Homo sapiens: one gene and its partners. The protein of the gene in region 2 interacts with the protein of the main gene of each other region in a pairwise test. Each region holds a gene or a part of one and is shown on either strand. Other genes may lie near its edges.

The links. The genes of interacting proteins can lie anywhere in the genome.
Region 1: the proteins of GABPB1 (region 2) and PPIA interact in binary tests that used the Homo sapiens proteins (3 or more experiments, as listed by UniProt).
Region 3: the proteins of GABPB1 (region 2) and POGZ interact in binary tests that used the Homo sapiens proteins (3 or more experiments, as listed by UniProt).

The regions. Positions count from the first base shown.
Region 1 is NC_000007.14:44,799,681-44,803,652, forward strand, and holds the end of PPIA (peptidyl-prolyl cis-trans isomerase A), read left to right. Parts: intron 1-21; coding exon 22-194; intron 195-1,606; coding exon 1,607-1,742; 3' UTR 1,743-3,437; downstream 3,438-3,972. UniProt on the Homo sapiens protein: Catalyzes the cis-trans isomerization of proline imidic peptide bonds in oligopeptides.
Region 2 is NC_000015.10:50,303,172-50,310,206, reverse strand, and holds part of GABPB1 (GA-binding protein subunit beta-1 isoform beta 2), read left to right. Parts: intron 1-408; coding exon 409-516; intron 517-6,073; coding exon 6,074-6,241; intron 6,242-7,035.
Region 3 is NC_000001.11:151,456,460-151,463,381, forward strand, and holds the start of POGZ (pogo transposable element with ZNF domain), read right to left. Parts: upstream 3,036-6,922; 5' UTR 2,693-3,035; exon of another isoform or gene 2,601-2,692; coding exon of another isoform or gene 2,581-2,600; intron 1-2,580. UniProt on the Homo sapiens protein: Plays a role in mitotic cell cycle progression and is involved in kinetochore assembly and mitotic sister chromatid cohesion.

The sequences.
Region 1 (3,972 bases), on a different chromosome or scaffold from region 2:
ATTTTTCCTATATGTTGACAGGGTGGTGACTTCACACGCCATAATGGCACTGGTGGCAAGTCCATCTATGGGGAGAAATTTGAAGATGAGAACTTCATCCTAAAGCATACGGGTCCTGGCATCTTGTCCATGGCAAATGCTGGACCCAACACAAATGGTTCCCAGTTTTTCATCTGCACTGCCAAGACTGAGTGGTAAGGGTACAACATGGCACACTAACCACCTGACTAAATGAAAAGTTGCCCTGGGGGGAACGGAACAAACACTACTTTTCTTCAACCTTTGCTTCCACAGACTTTTTCATCCCTAAGATACTAGAAGAAGAGCATACATAAACGACAAATATAGCCAATGTGATACAGAATGTCAGATACTATGATAGAAACTTGGCCCTTAGCTGGGTGGTTGAATTAGGTGCTACTTTTTTGAGATGGAGTTTTGCTCTGTTGCCAGGTTGGAGTGCAGTGGCACAATCTGGGCTCACTGCAACCTCTGCCTCCTGGGTTCAAGCGATTCTCCTGCCTTGGCCTCCTGAGTAGCTGAGAATACAGATGTGTGCCAGCATGCCTGGCTAATTTTTTGTATTTTTGTGGAGACGGGGTTTCATCATGTTGGCCAAGCTGGTCTTGAACTCGTGACTTAAGGTGAACCACCTGCCTTGGCCCCCCAAAGTGCTGGGATTTCAGGCATGAGCCACTGCGCCCAACCAATTAAGTGCTTTTTTTTTTTTTTTCTTTTCTCAGACTGGATCTCGCTCTTATCTCCCAGGTTGGAGTGCAGTGGTGCCATCTCAGCTCACTGCAACCTCCTCCCGGGTTCAAGCAATTCTTCTGCCTCAGCCTCTCAAGTAGCTGGAACTACAGGCATGCACCACCACTCCCAGCTAAATTGTGTATTATTAGTAGAGCGGGATTTACCATGTTGTCCAGGCTGGTCTCGAACTCCTGGGCTCAAGTGATCTGCCTGCCTTGACCCCCCCAAAGTGCTGGGATTACAGGCATGAGCCACTGTGCCCACCCAATTAAGTGCTGCTTTTATGTTACTATTAATAACATGCGGTTGGTTGGGTTTTTTGTTTCTTTGGGGTTTTTGTTTTGTTTTGTTTGTTTTTGGGGGAGGGGGGCGCAATTCATTCTATATGTGTAACTCTTTTTTGAGATGGAGTTTCGCTCTGTCGCCCAGGCTGGAGTGCAGTGGCGCGATCTCGGCTCACTGCAAGCTCCGCCTCCCAGGTTCACGCCATTCTCCTGCCTCAGCCTCCCGAGTAGCTGGGACTATAGGCACACGCCACCATGCCCGGCTAATTTTTTGTATTTTTAGTAGAGACAGGGTTTCACCGTGTTAGCCAGGATGGTCTCGATCTCCTGACCTCGTGATCCGCCCGCCTTGGCCTCCCAAAGTGCTGGGATTACAGGCGTGAGCCACCGCACCCGGCCTATATGTGTAACTCTTTAATGGTAATTGGAGAATCATGTTTAATGACATTTAGTACAAAAGGCTTCAGTTAAAAAAAAAAAAAAAAGCTACCTTTCTCGTCTTGGTTCATGACACATGGAGGCTGCTTGTTTGTGGTTGCCAGTCATAGTGATTGTTCTTCCTTTTCAAGGTTGGATGGCAAGCATGTGGTGTTTGGCAAAGTGAAAGAAGGCATGAATATTGTGGAGGCCATGGAGCGCTTTGGGTCCAGGAATGGCAAGACCAGCAAGAAGATCACCATTGCTGACTGTGGACAACTCGAATAAGTTTGACTTGTGTTTTATCTTAACCACCAGATCATTCCTTCTGTAGCTCAGGAGAGCACCCCTCCACCCCATTTGCTCGCAGTATCCTAGAATCTTTGTGCTCTCGCTGCAGTTCCCTTTGGGTTCCATGTTTTCCTTGTTCCCTCCCATGCCTAGCTGGATTGCAGAGTTAAGTTTATGATTATGAAATAAAAACTAAATAACAATTGTCCTCGTTTGAGTTAAGAGTGTTGATGTAGGCTTTATTTTAAGCAGTAATGGGTTACTTCTGAAACATCACTTGTTTGCTTAATTCTACACAGTACTTAGATTTTTTTTACTTTCCAGTCCCAGGAAGTGTCAATGTTTGTTGAGTGGAATATTGAAAATGTAGGCAGCAACTGGGCATGGTGGCTCACTGTCTGTAATGTATTACCTGAGGCAGAAGACCACCTGAGGGTAGGAGTCAAGATCAGCCTGGGCAACATAGTGAGACGCTGTCTCTACAAAAAATAATTAGCCTGGCCTGGTGGTGCATGCCTAGTCCTAGCTGATCTGGAGGCTGACGTGGGAGGATTGCTTGAGCCTAGAGTGAGCTATTATCATGCCACTGTACAGCCTGGGTGTTCACAGATCTTGTGTCTCAAAGGTAGGCAGAGGCAGGAAAAGCAAGGAGCCAGAATTAAGAGGTTGGGTCAGTCTGCAGTGAGTTCATGCATTTAGAGGTGTTCTTCAAGATGACTAATGTCAAAAATTGAGACATCTGTTGCGGTTTTTTTTTTTTTTTTTTCCCCTGGAATGCAGTGGCGTGATCTCAGCTCACTGCAGCCTCCGCCTCCTGGGTTCAAGTGATTCTAGTGCCTCAGCCTCCTGAGTAGCTGGGATAATGGGCGTGTGCCACCATGCCCAGCTAATTTTTGTATTTTTAGTATAGATGGGGTTTCATCATTTTGACCAGGCTGGTCTCAAACTCTTGACCTCAGCTGATGCGCCTGCCTTGGCCTCCCAAACTGCTGAGATTACAGATGTGAGCCACCGCACCCTACCTCATTTTCTGTAACAAAGCTAAGCTTGAACACTGTTGATGTTCTTGAGGGAAGCATATTGGGCTTTAGGCTGTAGGTCAAGTTTATACATCTTAATTATGGTGGAATTCCTATGTAGAGTCTAAAAAGCCAGGTACTTGGTGCTACAGTCAGTCTCCCTGCAGAGGGTTAAGGCGCAGACTACCTGCAGTGAGGAGGTACTGCTTGTAGCATATAGAGCCTCTCCCTAGCTTTGGTTATGGAGGCTTTGAGGTTTTGCAAACCTGACCAATTTAAGCCATAAGATCTGGTCAAAGGGATACCCTTCCCACTAAGGACTTGGTTTCTCAGGAAATTATATGTACAGTGCTTGCTGGCAGTTAGATGTCAGGACAATCTAAGCTGAGAAAACCCCTTCTCTGCCCACCTTAACAGACCTCTAGGGTTCTTAACCCAGCAATCAAGTTTGCCTATCCTAGAGGTGGCGGATTTGATCATTTGGTGTGTTGGGCAATTTTTGTTTTACTGTCTGGTTCCTTCTGCGTGAATTACCACCACCACCACTTGTGCATCTCAGTCTTGTGTGTTGTCTGGTTACGTATTCCCTGGGTGATACCATTCAATGTCTTAATGTACTTGTGGCTCAGACCTGAGTGCAAGGTGGAAATAAACATCAAACATCTTTTCATTATCCCTAGTATTTCTTATTCCATTAATTAACAGAATAGCCTCACCACGTTGTCATTAACTGCTTTTATTCATCCAAGTATTTAACTTTTTTTTTCTTTTTTATTTGAGACAGTTTGGCTCTTGTTGCCCAGGCTGGAGTGCAATGGCACTATCTCCACTCACTGCATCCTCTGCCTCCCAGGTTCAAACGATTCTCCTGTCTCAGCTTCCAGAGTAGCTGGGATTACAGGTGTATGCCACCACACCCAGCTAATTTTTTGTATTTTTAGTAGAGTAGGGGTTTACCATGTTCATGGCCAGGCTGGTCTCAAACAGACCTCAGGTAATCCGCCCGCCTTGGGCTCCCAAAGTGCTAGGATTTCAGGCGTGAGCCACCGCGTCCAGCCCCATTCCTTTTTTTTTTTTTTTTTTAATTTCTCCAGTGCCCAGCGTGATCCCTGACATCTGGTATTAGAGTTCAATACTTGGGCCGGGCCTCGGTAATCCCAGCACTTCGGGAGGCCAAGGCAGGCAGATTACCTGAGGTCAGTAGTTTG
Region 2 (7,035 bases):
GCAGGAGAATCACATGAACCCAGGAGGCGGAGGTTGCAGTGAGCCAACATCGTGCCACTGCACTCCAGCCTGGGTGACAGGCCGAGACTCTGTGTCAAGAAAAAAATAAATAAATAAAAATTTAGGCCAGCTTTTCTCTGCTACTTACCTCTTCTATCTTTTACCAGATGTATTTGGAGAATTTAAACTACTTTTATTCTAAGTAAAAACTTAATGAGAAAGGAAAATGGATTCTAAAATCCAAATATAAATTGCTTTTGTATGATCTGTAATTTTAAATTAACCATAGCACACTCTTTTGAAGGGATAATTGAGAACTGACTTATTAATAAAGACAGGAAGGGAAAATGTCATGTCATAGTGTATAAATGGAGATTTTGATGTTCAGTTCATCTATGTTTTGTTTAGATGTCCCTGGTAGATTTGGGAAAGAAGCTTTTAGAAGCGGCACGAGCAGGTCAAGATGATGAAGTTCGTATTTTGATGGCAAATGGAGCTCCCTTTACTACAGACTGGGTAAAGAATGATTTTAATATTGTGTGTTCTTTTTCCTTCTCATTTTTGAGTTTTTGCAGAGAAAAATGTAGTCAGTATTGTGTTTATAAGTGGTAAAAAGTTATTATTTTTGCAAATGTGTTTATTATTTTAGAATTATAACTGTCCTAAAAGAAGTGGTTTATATTATTTTCTTTGATATTGGACAACCTTATCCAAATATTTCATCCACAAAGAGTTTTTCTTTCAAACTGTGGAGTGCATTAATGTGGCATGAATATAAAAATGTATCTGCTTGGGATTTAATTTAAAGGCCTTATAAATAGCACAGGTAGAATTTATAATTCAGAAAGATACTGATAAAGATTGGAGTTAGTGTTAATAGTCACTCCTAAAAGAAAAACAAGTTTATGTTTCAATTATTACTTGTAAAACTGTTGCAGACATGACGAAAGAGGAAGAAAGGAATGGGAATGAGATCTTGACAACTATGGAAAGAAGGTAGTTGTGGGGAAGGCAAAAAAAAATAACTCTTTAATTCTGGGGGCAAATAAAAAAGTATTGTCTTGTGGATATGGAATGCTAGGAATCTGAATTAACCTGCCCATTGGTAACAACTAAAAATTCCAGATTTTTGATTTTGCCGTTTTTGCCTTTCTTTCTCTTTTTACATTTTTCATGAAAAAACAAAATTTTTTATTATAGAAAATTTCAAATATATATCAACGATATCCCTGTAATACCCTTTACCCAACTTCAAAAATTATCAAATCATGATGAATATTGTTTCCTCTATAACTCTGTCTACTGTATTATTTTTTGTTCTGTATTATTTTAAAGCAAATTCCAGGGACCATATCATTTTATCCATAAATGTTTCTTTAAAGAATAAATAAATCTTTAAAGAATAAAGACTTTTTGATGAAATATTTTAAAGAAAGTCTTCTTAAGTACACTGCTGAATTAGAAAGAAAGAGATTATCAACCTGAAAAACTAAGTGAAGGCAAGAACCCAGAGAAATTTTACCCTAAAGAACATTAGGTGAACTCACACTTGTCTGGTGGTTTTTCCACCTCACTGGCTTGGGGTACTAAAGCTAAAGACCTGAGAGTGTTCATGGAGAGAAGTCTGATAGGAGATCTTATCTCATAATTCTGGAATCCCAAAGAGCTGCACCTTCAGTGTAGGGATAAAGCAGGAATACCCTGTCCCTCCTCCTGTCTGCTCCTGCCCTTGCCCCTGTTGCCGTGATGCTGCAAAGATAATAAGCTGATGTGAACCAAGACATCAAATGGAGAGAGGAAAACAATCTGATGGTGAGAATTTGGAATCACAAGGCATCCTTTTTACACACTTGCAGCCTGAACTCATAAATACTTGTGTAGTCTAAAAAACTGTAAACTGAGAAATGAATTTGAAGTGATCTTTGGACTAGGGATTACCCCAGGCTCTTGACAGAAGCAAATGAATATCTGCTCTGGAGGAACCTGCCTTCATCCCAGGCTTCATATCCACAAATGAAATTCAAAGGAAAGTGAGCAGTCAGAAATAACTAAACACATGAACACATGCCAATTTGGACAGTAATCTGCTAAAACAACTGTCAACAGAAGCAGACCTATAAGGACTTGAGATAAAATTTTAGTAACAGATTAGAAACAGCTAAAGAGAAAATTAGTAAACTGAAAGGTATGAAAAAAAAAATGATCCAGACTATGTCACAGATAAAAATAGATAGAAAATGTAAAAGAGATGTTAGGAATCATGAAGGATCATGTGAGAAAGTCTAACATCTGATCATAGATCCACAAAAAGAGCAAAAATAGGGATGAAATAATTCAAAGAGGTAATTGCTGAGAATTTTCCAGAACTGATGAAAGATGGCAGCCCACAGATTTGAGTAGCCTAACAAATCTCCAGCAGGATCAATTTAAAAACTAATCTATATCTAGATATATCATAGTGATGCTGTAGTACCTCAAGACAAAAAGATCTTTTTTTTTTTTTTTGAGATGGAGTCTCACACTGTTGCCTGGGCTGGAGTGCAATGGTTCAGTCTCGGCTCACTGCAACCTCCGCCTGCCGGGTTCAAGTGATTCTCCTGCCTCAGCCTCCCAAGTAGCTGAGATTACAGGCACCCACCACCAAGCCCAGCTAATGTTTTGTATTTTTAGTAGAGATGGGGTTTCAATATGTTGGCCAGCTGGTCTTGAACTCCTGACCCCGTGATCAGCCCGCCTCGGCCTCCCAAAGACAGAAAGATCTTAAGAAGGATTAGTATCCATAATACATAAGGAATTCCCATGGGTTAGCAATAAAAAGACAAGGCAATAGAAGACTGACTGGATATGGTGCTTTACCAAGGAGAAAGTTTGATCAATAAACATGAAAAGATACTCAACTACATTAAAATTGGGGCAAATGCAAAGTAAAATCATGAAATACTATTATATATCCACCAGATTAGCAAAAACAGTTGAGCAGTACCAAGGCTTGGTGAGGAGATGGTGGGAACTCTCAAATATTTTTGGTGGAAGTATGGAATTGGTATAATCGTTATGGAAGACAGTTTGGCAGCACATAGTAAATTTGGAGATGTGCATAGTATATGATGTAGCAGTTGGGCTTCTAAGACTATTCCCGAGAGAAGACTTGTTCATGTGCCTGAAACATATACAAGACTACTGTATTTAGCAGCAACATTATTCATAATAACACAAAAACTGGAAACAATCTAAATGTTCATCAGTAGATTGGTTAAATTAATTGTGGTTTACTCATTCAATGGAATATTATAGAACACAGAAAATTAGTAAGCTATACTTACAGTTATTAACATGGTGAATCTCATGAATACAGTGTCAAGCAAAAGAAGGCAAGTCACAGAGAAATACATGCAGTATAATTCTGTTTAAATAAAACTCAAAACAGGCAAAACCAAAGTATATTTTTTAGGGATAAGTGATACAAAGAAAACTAAGTAATGCTTGTCACAAAATTCAAAATATTAGTTACCTCTGGGGCTGGGGGAGGGGCTTGTGATCAGGGAGTGGCATGTGGGAAGATTTTTTTTTTTTTTTTTTTGAGACAGAGTTTCGCTCTGTTGCCCAGGCTGGAGTGCAGTGGCATGATCTTGGCTCACTGAAGCCTCTGCCTCCCGGGTTCAAGTGATTCTCCTGCCTCAGGCACCGAAGTAGCTGGGATAACAGGCGCCCACCCTCACACCCAGCTAATTTTTTATTTTTAGTAGATGAGGTTTCACCATGTTGGCCAGGCTGGTCTCGAACTCCTGACCTCAGGCAATCCACCTGCCTTGGCCACCCAAAGTGTTGGGATTACAGGCGTGAGCCACTGCGCCTGGCCAGATTTTAAATTACTGGCAGTGTTTTATTTCTAGACTATGGTGTTGATTCACAGGTGTTTGCCTTAAACTACATATATTGGCTGAGCACAGTGGCTTACGCTTGTAATCCCAGCACTTTGGGAGACTGAGGTGGCAGATTATTTGAGGCCAGAAGTTCAAGACCAGCATGGGCAACATAGACCCCATCTCAAACAAAAAGAAAAAAATTAGTCAGGCATGGTGGCTCAGCCTGTAGTCCTAGCTACTCTGGAGGCTGAGATGGGAGGATTGCTTGAGCCTAGGAGTTAGAGGTTACAGTGAGCTACGATAGCTCCACTGCATTCTAGCCTGGGCGACAGAGCAAGAAGCTGACTCTAAAAAAATGAATAAAAAAAAACCCAAAAAGCTACAAAAACTACATGGCCAGGTGTGGTGGCTCATATCCATAATCCCAGCACTTCGGGAGGCTGAGGGAGGAGGATCGCTTGAGCTCAGAAGTTTGAAGGTACAGTGAGCTGTGATCACCCCATTGGACTCCAGCCTGAGTGACAGAGTGAGACCCTGTCTCAGAAAAAAACAAAAAACCCTGCATATATGTATATATATTTTGTGTCAATAACCAAGAAGGGAAAGTCTCAGAAGACAAAAATAAAAAAGTAGATCCTAATGTCAAACTGAGCAAAGCTCCTGGTTGCTAAATGGGCTGTTGAGATATTTTCATTAAATACTGAAATTTAAGAGTATAGAAAAGGCTAGTTAAAGAAAAATTGACAAAGCATGGAGAAAGAAAGGATTGTTTAAGGATCTTCTTTGATCTGCTGGGATGACCTTCTCTTAAAAATGTAAGGTTTAGCTGGGTTTGTTGGTGTGTGCCTGTAGTCCCAGCTACTCTGGAGGCTGAGGTGGACAGATTGCTTGAGCCCAGCAGTTCAAAGCTGTAGTGTGTGATAATTGTACCTATGAATATCCATTGCACCCCAGCCTGGGCAACACAGTGAGGCCCTGTCTCTAATTAAACAAACAACAATTAAACAAACAAACAAACAAAAAATATATCTATCTCTCTATCTATAGATAGATAGATAGAGAGATAGGACTAAGGACCTTTATACATATATCTCACTTAATCTCTTCATAACATAATAAACTGTTTATATGTGTAAATTTCCTTAGTCCAAATATCTTAGTTCTTTGGAATATCAAGTGATGTGGTAATCAGAGGGTTATAGGGATTTTCTGTGCCTTTAAATGCATGTGATAGAACTTAATCTTCCTTCCCTCACATTTTAGTACTCCCTCTGTGTATTGTGGATGTCAATTTAATGACTAGACCACATGGAACCAATTTCAGGAGAATTGGGCTCTGTTTTGGTTTTGTCCTGATTCAACTTTGGCAAATGCACCTAAGATTTTTCCTTTGAAAAAAATCCCTTTAAAAAGATCACTGAGATGTTTCAATACGTGAATTTTTTAAGACCTACAAAACAATTTTGATCCACTTAAAGTAAAAATGTACACTGTTACATTTATTTGAGATGAATTTTACAGACGAAGTTAACTTAGCAAGTTTTGTGTGATTGGTATGAGGAATACATTCTAATACACAGAAAAATTTCTCAAACTCTATCTCTGATTTCTTTTTTTTTTTTTTTTCTTTAGACCAAAATCTCGCTGTGTCACCCAGGCTGGAGTGCAGTGGCGCGATCTCGGCTCACTGCAACCTCTGCCTCCTGGGTTCAAGCGATTCTCCTGCCTTAGCCTCCTGAGTAGCTGGGATTACAGGCACATGCCACCACGCCTGGCTAATTTCTGTATTTTTAGTAGAGATGGGGTTTCACCATGTTGGCCAGGGTGGTCTTGAATTCCTGACCTCAAGTGATCCACCCGCCTTGGCTTCCCAAAGTGCTGGGATTACAGGCGTGAGCCACCACGTTCGGCCTCTATATCTTAATTTCTAATGAAATTAATTTTGTTCAGGCAGTTTATCTGATAAAAAATAATGAAGAAAGAAAGTTTGAATTAAAGGAAATACTGGATTTTCTTCTTCATTGAGAGTGTTTGGGAATTCTTCAAGATGTCTATGAAGAGGATGTGATAAGCATGAATCTAGGCATTTCTTTTGAGTTTTGAGTTGCTATGTAAACAGATAATGTAAAGAAAATCTGTTTACTATATAAACAGAAGTGTAGTAACAATAATGTAAATGTGGATTTTTTTTTTTTTCTGTGGTACAGCTGGGAACTTCTCCACTTCATCTAGCAGCACAGTATGGTCATTATTCCACCACAGAGGTACTGCTGCGAGCTGGTGTGAGCAGAGATGCCAGAACCAAAGTGGACCGAACACCATTACATATGGCAGCTTCTGAGGGCCATGCCAGCATAGTAGAGGTTTTACTTAAGGTATGTGTTCTCTTTTTGCACTTTGCTTTTAAAATACTTTACGGTTTTATAAGAAGGAGAGGGAACTAGTTTTTGTTAAATGCCTACTTAGTATTTTATCTATAGTATTTCATTTTTTGTGTGTATAAGCCCATTAAATGAAAATTGTCTTATAGCTTTCATTTCATGAGGGACAAAACTTCATTTAGGTATATTCTTAGTTAAATCAGCTAATTGATTTCTTGGACCTTGGTCTATCTTATGATGAGGGACTACAGCATTTTTTCTTTTTGTTTTTTTTTTTTTTTTGAGACAGAATCTCTGTCACCCAGGCTGCAGTGCAGTGGCACGATCTCAGCTCACTGCAACCTCCACCTCCTGGGTTCAAGTGATTCTCCTGCCTCAGCCTCCCGAGTAGCTGGGACTACAGGCGCCCACCACCATGCCCAGCTAATTTTTGTATTTTTAGTAGAGATGGGGTTTCACCATATTGGCTTGACTGGTCTCGAACTCCTGACCTTGTGATCCGCCTGCCTTGGGCTCCCAAAGTGCTGGGATTACAGGTGTGAGCCACCATGTCCGGCCCTTAATTTTTTGTATTGTAGAGATGGGGTTTTGCCATATTGCCCAGGCTAGTTTCAAACCCCTGAGCTCAGCTGATCCAACCGCCTCGGCCTCCCAAAGTGCTGGGATTACAGGCGTGAGCCACTGCACCTGGCCTGGAACATCTATTTAACATATACATATAAATAATTGACTACATTATTTGTTCTTGCTTTAAAGCACAGAACTAATAATTTCATATCAGGAATTTT
Region 3 (6,922 bases), on a different chromosome or scaffold from region 2:
AAAACCATAGTCTGCTAGTCGTTCTTTCAAGTAAAAATGCTACTCCATGAAATAAGCCATTCATTCACAACCCAATCTCACAAATGCTTTTCCTTCATGACAACAATCACACCTCCCTAGGCAGCATAAATGCTTTATCCATGTTTATTTAATCACAAATTCTTAAAAATTAAAAAGACATGTAGTCAAAAGCTAAGACTTAATAATAATAGGCCGGGCACGGTGGCTCATGCCTGTAATCCCAGCACTTTGGGACGCCGAGGCAGGTGGATCGCCTGAGGTCCGGAGTTCGAGACCAGCCTGGCCAACATGGCGAAACACTGTCTCTACTAAAAATACAACCAGGGAGGAAGAGATTGCAGTGAGCCGAGATAGTGCCACTGCACTCCACCCTGGGCGACAGAGCAAAACTCCGCCTCAAAAAAATAAAAATAGAATAATAAATTTTACTGCTTCAAGGGCATTCTCAAGTAGTTTGGTGCCCCTGACTTGCTTTGTGCTAAGGTACCGCCAGTAGTTTTACCCAGCCTTGCTTTTGAACCATCAGTGTATCAGTGAAAACAATAAATAGCATCTTACTATTATTTTGAAAATAGTTATGACCTTGAGGCTACCCTGAAAGGGTAAGAGGAGATCCCCATGGGTCATCTGTCCACACTTTGAGAACTGCTTTCCTACATTATACCACTAGTTCAAGATGGGAGTGGAAACTCTAACTAAATCAGGTTCGTCCCAAGAGTCCATTCTGTTACCTCCTTTAGTTTGAGATACACCACCAACACAGCTCTGGAAAAGGGAAGGAAATCAACGGCACAAGGTGTCACTTGTTTCAACATCTTGAACACTTTTATGTTAGACCAGTAATTCTCAATGTAGTGGTTACATTAATCAGTCTCAGCCCCAGGACTGCTCATTTGAAAATGTAAAGATGACAACCCCCCTCTGCTCCATTCAAATAAATTTGGGGGATGAGGCCCCCCAAATTGTACGTTTAACCACCTTCAAGTTACTTTTTATGCACCCCGAAGTTGAGAACGATTGTGCTAACAGTTCGAATTCAGAGTTCAAGCTCTCAGACCCTGAGCAATAGTGTCTCAAAATTAATCGTTTGCCAACGAGCAGCCCTCCCTGCCCCCTCCGTTTCCCTTTCCTCTAGTTGGGTAAATGCCTACAGAAGTAAAACCCGGCCGGGCGCGGTGGCTGACGCCTGTAATCCCAGCACTTTGGGAGGCCAAGGCGGGCGGATCACCTGAGGTCAGGCGTTCAAGACCAGCCTGGCCAACATGGTGAAACCTCGTCCCTACTAAAAATACAAAAATTAGCCGGGCGTGGTAGCACATGCCTGTAATCCCAGCTACTAGGAAGGCTGAGGCAGGAGAATCACTGGAACCCGGCAGGCGGAGGTTGCAGTGAGCAGAGATCGTGCCACTGCACACCAGCCTGGGCGACAAGAGTGAAACTTCGTCTCAAAAAAAAAAAAAAAAGTAAAACCCCATTTCTGTGGAGTTTTGAGCGGCGGTAAGAGGTGTCTACGGGCTTGGAAGGACGGGCTACACCGCTTGCATCAAGACGGCGGCTGCTGTGAGATAGTCCAACTGCATCTTAGTTTCCATTTCGAAAATGAGACTGGCCACTAAATGACTCTAAGGACTCATCAGCACTACCTTTTTCTGAACTAAGAATGTCTAAGACAAGTGCTACTAGCAGTTTGAGAGAATCCCACATCTGGAGAGGAAGGAAATAAGAACAACACGCAGAAAGACGGAAAACAAATAGATCAATGACAGTACTCCTTTGCAAAAGGTGCCAAGAATCTAAATAAAATAGTCCCCGGGATAAACATGGCGCCCACCGCGGCAGGACATAATCACCAGAAAATAAAGATTCCCCGCCTCATTCCATTTTATAAATCACGGCGCCATCCCAAAAGAAATTTGGGGACCGAGGGAGGAGACTTCGTAAACTAGCTGCAGTGCACTAAGGCTTAGGATGTACTATTAGACCAAGCAGAGATTACATAACACAAGGGATCGGCTCAGCAATCACTCATTTTCCTCCTCCCGCTCAAAACGAGCGCCCCACTCCTTCTCGGAGCGGGAATGGGGCGGGGAGGGCCGCGCACCCCCACCCCCAGGGGCCGCTCCGCCGCCGCCCGCCCCTCCGCCGCACGGCCTCGCCCCCTCGCCGGCCCCTCCCGCCGCGCCCCGCCGTCTCGCCACCGCCCGCGCCCCCGCCCCCGCCCCTTCCCCAGCGGGCCACCGCCCGCGCCCGCGCCGCCCACTCCTCCGAGACGCCTCGCGCCGAGCGTGCGTGTGGACGTCGGGCTGTGTGCGGGGCCGTGGGGCGCGAGTGCGCGCGCGCGCGCCGCGGCGGGCGCCGGGGGGCGGGGGCGGCCGGCCAGCCGGCAGGCAGGGACCTCCGCCGCCGGCCCTTCGCGCGGCTCCCGCGGCCCGGGGCGCACGCACACACACTCGCGCTCGCGCGCCGCACCCCGCGGCCGCCCCTGCCGCGGGCCGCGCCGCCACTCGCGGTGGGCGGGGGCGCGCACCGCCGGCCCCCCGCCCCCACCCCCGCGCGTACCGGCCCCATCCCCCTCTCATTGTCTCGCCTCTGAACGCCTCGCCGAGCGAAAAGATAACGGAACCCCCGGGAGCAGGGGGTGGGGAGAGAGAAGGCTCGCTCGCTCACTCACCTCCTGTGGTCGTCGCCGCCGGTAGTCTGACCCGAGGAAGGCGCCGTCGCCTTAAAGGGACCTTACACCCGGCGCCAGAAGGGGGTGGGAGCAGGGGGAGGGGACGGGGGCTTGGGGGGAGACGAAGAAGAGGTAACCGTTGAAAGCTCGTCTCCCCAAGGGTGAAAGGAAGCCTCCCTCGGGTTCGAGTGATTCGGGGTGGATTTTTTTCCCGAGGGGGGCGGGGGGGCCCCGAGGGAGGGGGGTGGGGGGGCCAAGGAATGCGGCTCCGTGTACGGGAGCTGGCGCGGGGGAGAGAGACGCCGACTCCCCCCACCGACCCTCTCGCCCCGCGGAGGGATACGGCTCGTCACTTCCGCCCTCCCCTTTTTCACGGCCTCCCAATTGGTCGGAGCGCGCTGCACGTCATGGGCTCATCCAAACCCCTGCCCGGGCTTCTTTTCTAGTCAAGTTTGGCTGGGCCTGCAAATAAATAAATAAAGGAAAACATTTTTTGTAATGAAAAAAGAATAATTAGCTTCAGAAGCTATATCTAAATTTTGGTGAGAAAAATGAGACTTCCAAAGAAAATATTCCCCAATTTACTTGCCAAGAGTTTCCAAGGAAGTGTTGGGAGGCTCCCCCACTTTCCACTCAAGGCTTAGACCCAGTCAAGAGGGAGACTTCATGACACAGGCCAGGTGGTGAGGCCCAGTGGCACCAACAACTGTCATTGGAACAAAGAACAAAATGGCACTCACTCTTTCTCAAGAGACACTCGGCCAAGTAACCTTGTGGCTGCGGCCTTGTTTAAGTGAAGAACTTTTAAAAGCCATTTTGATCCTCAAGCCCTTCTGGATCCTGGAAAGAAGTGGCACACGATTGTTAAAGCGATTATTGTGATGGAAACTGCTTTGCTCCCATTGTGAGTAGATTCAGCAGAGATCCCCAGTTCCAAGAAACCACACACACTCCACATCCTTATGCTTTTTGCTCCAATCAAGGCTGAGATGGGTTGGCTCAAAGAAATTGGTTAGTCCACTCAAACGACCATCCACCTGTTTATTCTTCCCCAGACAAAAACTACCTCTTTTCAGGTAGCTAAGAAATTTTGTCCTTTATTGCCTTCTGAGATTATAAAAATGTAATATTTTCCTTGAATATTTGAAAATGTTTGCTATTTAAGCAATACACAAATATTTGCTTCAAACCAAATGTGAAATCAAGGTACTTGGTGCAGAAAGGGGAAATCCAGAACTATGTTTATTTGTGCTCTTTATATACACACTCCATTCAAACCACCAGACTGAAAATAGGCAGTGGAAGTAGGCATTCCAAATTGTATGCACCTGCCCGTGTGAGTGTGCACATGTGCATACACATACACACACTGCCACCACCCAGTTTCATTCCATTTCATACCAAAACCATGTGAGTGATTTCCACTAGTGTAGGATGCTTAGGAAGGACTTCATTATTTGAATGAGAAGAATCACTAAATCCTTCTGAAAATACTTCTGAAGACTTTCCAGACCTGATCTGGAGAAGCCCATATTAGGATTATGGGATCAATCACCAAAAGACTACATGAAACTCAAATCCTATTTTATACTGTCGTGTAATTAGTATAATTCATTATATATGTTATATTTACATTATGTATATTACGTTATTAACCTTTGAAAAATTCCAACATATTTCCCCATGCCCTGTCAATTTATTCTCCCAGCCAATGAGATCTAGCGCAGACTATGCCATATACCGTTGACCAGTAACTGTTAGCATGCTTTATTGAAAATGGATCATGCATCCATTCATTCATTCAATGAATATTTATTGGGGGCTGGGCATGGTGGCTAACACCTGTAATCCCAACACTTTGGAAGGCCAAGGGAGGAGGATCACAGCAGTCTGAGGGCAGCCTGGGCAACTTAGCAACATCCCATCTCTACAAAAAAAAATTTTTTTTTTTTAAACAGAGTCTCGCTCTCTCCCCCAGGCTGGAGTGAAGTGGCGCGATCTCGGCTCACTGCAACCTCCGCCTGCTGGGTGCAATTCTCCTGCCTCAGCCTCCTGAGTAGCTGGGACTACAGGCGTGCGCCACGATGCCTGGCTAATTTTTTCTGTTTTTAGTAGAGACGGGGTTTCACCAAGCAGGCTGGTCTCGAACTCCTGACCTCGTGATCTGCCCGCCTCCGCCTCCCAAAGCGCTGGGATTACAGGCGTGAGCCACCGTGCCTGGCCCCAAAAAATTTTTTTCATTAGCTGGTTGTGGTATTCCTAGATACTTGGAAGACTTGGGAGGATCACTTGAGGCCAGGAGTTTGAGACTGCAGTGAGCTATGATGACACTACTTGCACTCTAGCCTGGGAGGGACAGAGCAAGATCCTGTCTCAAAAAAAAAAAAAAAATTATTGAGCACATGTACTAGGCACTGTTTTAGGTGCTGGGAATACAGCAGCAACAACAACAACAAATACCTGAATCTGTGGGATTTATACTCTAGAAGGAAAGAGACATAAAATATACACATAAACAAATTGTTCTATTGTCTATTGTTAAATAACAAATGACCCCGAACTTAGTGGCTTAAAACAACAATTTCATTACCTCTCATGGTTCTGGGAGGTAATTAGGCTCAGCTAAACAGTTCTCACTTGGGAGTCTCGTATGCAGTGGCTAGGGCTGAAGTAATCTCAAAAGCTTCCTTACATGTCTGGAAGTTGAGGTTGACTGTTGGCTTGGACCGCAGCTGGGGTTGTTGGCAGACCATTTACAAGTGGCTTCTCCATGTAGCCTGGGCTTCCTCATATCATAGTGGCTGAGTTCCAAGACTGAGTGCCCCAAAAGGACCAGACAGAGATCGTGACCTAGTCTCAGAGGTCATATAGTGTTACTTCCATTACAGTTACAGGATGGAGAGCATAGATCCCCATCTCTCAACGGGAATAGTGGAAATGTCACATTGTAAGAAAGTGTGCGGAAAGGGAAATCTTGTGGCCATCTTGGAAAATGCAATCTGATATACATTATGTAAATAAATATGGATTATATGAAATGGTGATAGGTGCTATGAAGGGTAAAGGGCAGGATAGGGGAATTAGGAGTGTGGTGCAGACATGGGGGTGGAGAATTTGCTATTTTATGTGGGGTGATTGGAGAAGTCCTTGTTAAGGTGACATTTGGGCAAAGACCTGAAGAAAGTGAAGCAAAGTTTAGGTTTTACCTGTAGTGAAAATGAAGCTGCTGGAGGATCATAAAGCAAGTAGTGACACGGCCTGACTCACGTTTTTAAAGGATCACTGTGGCTGCTTGTGAAGAATAACTAATAGAGGCAAGGGCAGATGCAGGGAGACCAGATAGAAGGCTATTGCAATAATCCAGGTGAGAGTTGATGGTAGCTTGGACCAGGATGGGAGTTGTGAAGCTGCTGCTTCAGGTGATTGAGTTCTGTGGTGTGTTACTTACTCCTCTCTATTTTTCTGTCATTTAGTTTGTGCCCTGGGAGACAGTTTTGACCCATAATGCCCAATAAAATGAGTGATGGTGCTATGCCTGCCACCAAGAATACAGAAAGTCTATCATGCTAAATGTAAAAGTGGGAGTTTTGCAGGATCTGGAGGCACCTTTGAGGAAATGGGTGAGGAAACAGAGGGTAAAGATCAACAGGCAATTAGGGAATGGAGTGTCTTTTGACGTTGTAAAAGGTATCCTGGCCAGGTGTGGTGGCTCATGCCTGTAATCCCAGCACTTTGGGAGGCCGAGGTGGGTGGATTACAAGATCAGGAGTTTGAGACCAGCCTGGCCAACATGGTGAAACCCCATCTCTACTAAAAATACAAAAATTAGCCAGGCGTGGTGGCACATGCCTGTAGTCCTAGCTACTCAGGAGGCTGAGGCAGGAGAATCGCTTGAACCCGGGAGGTGGAGGTTGCAGTGAGCCGAGATCACACCACATCACTCCAGCCTGGGTGACAGAGTGAGACTCCATCTCAAAGAAAAAAAAAAAAAAAGGAAATGATGAGCAAAGACATTTTATACCTTCAGAAGATTTCAAGGAAACTCTGCCACCTTACATTACAACACTGGTGCAGCACTTCAAAAGAGACTATACAGTTAACACTGCTATTTCCAGAAACGTATTCCTTGTGCTAAAGAGAGAATGCTCATATTAATTTGGACAGTGTTGGAACATTTTGCTTCTTCAGCTAAAACACAGGTTTCCAGAGTGAAGTAACAGAACTGATAGC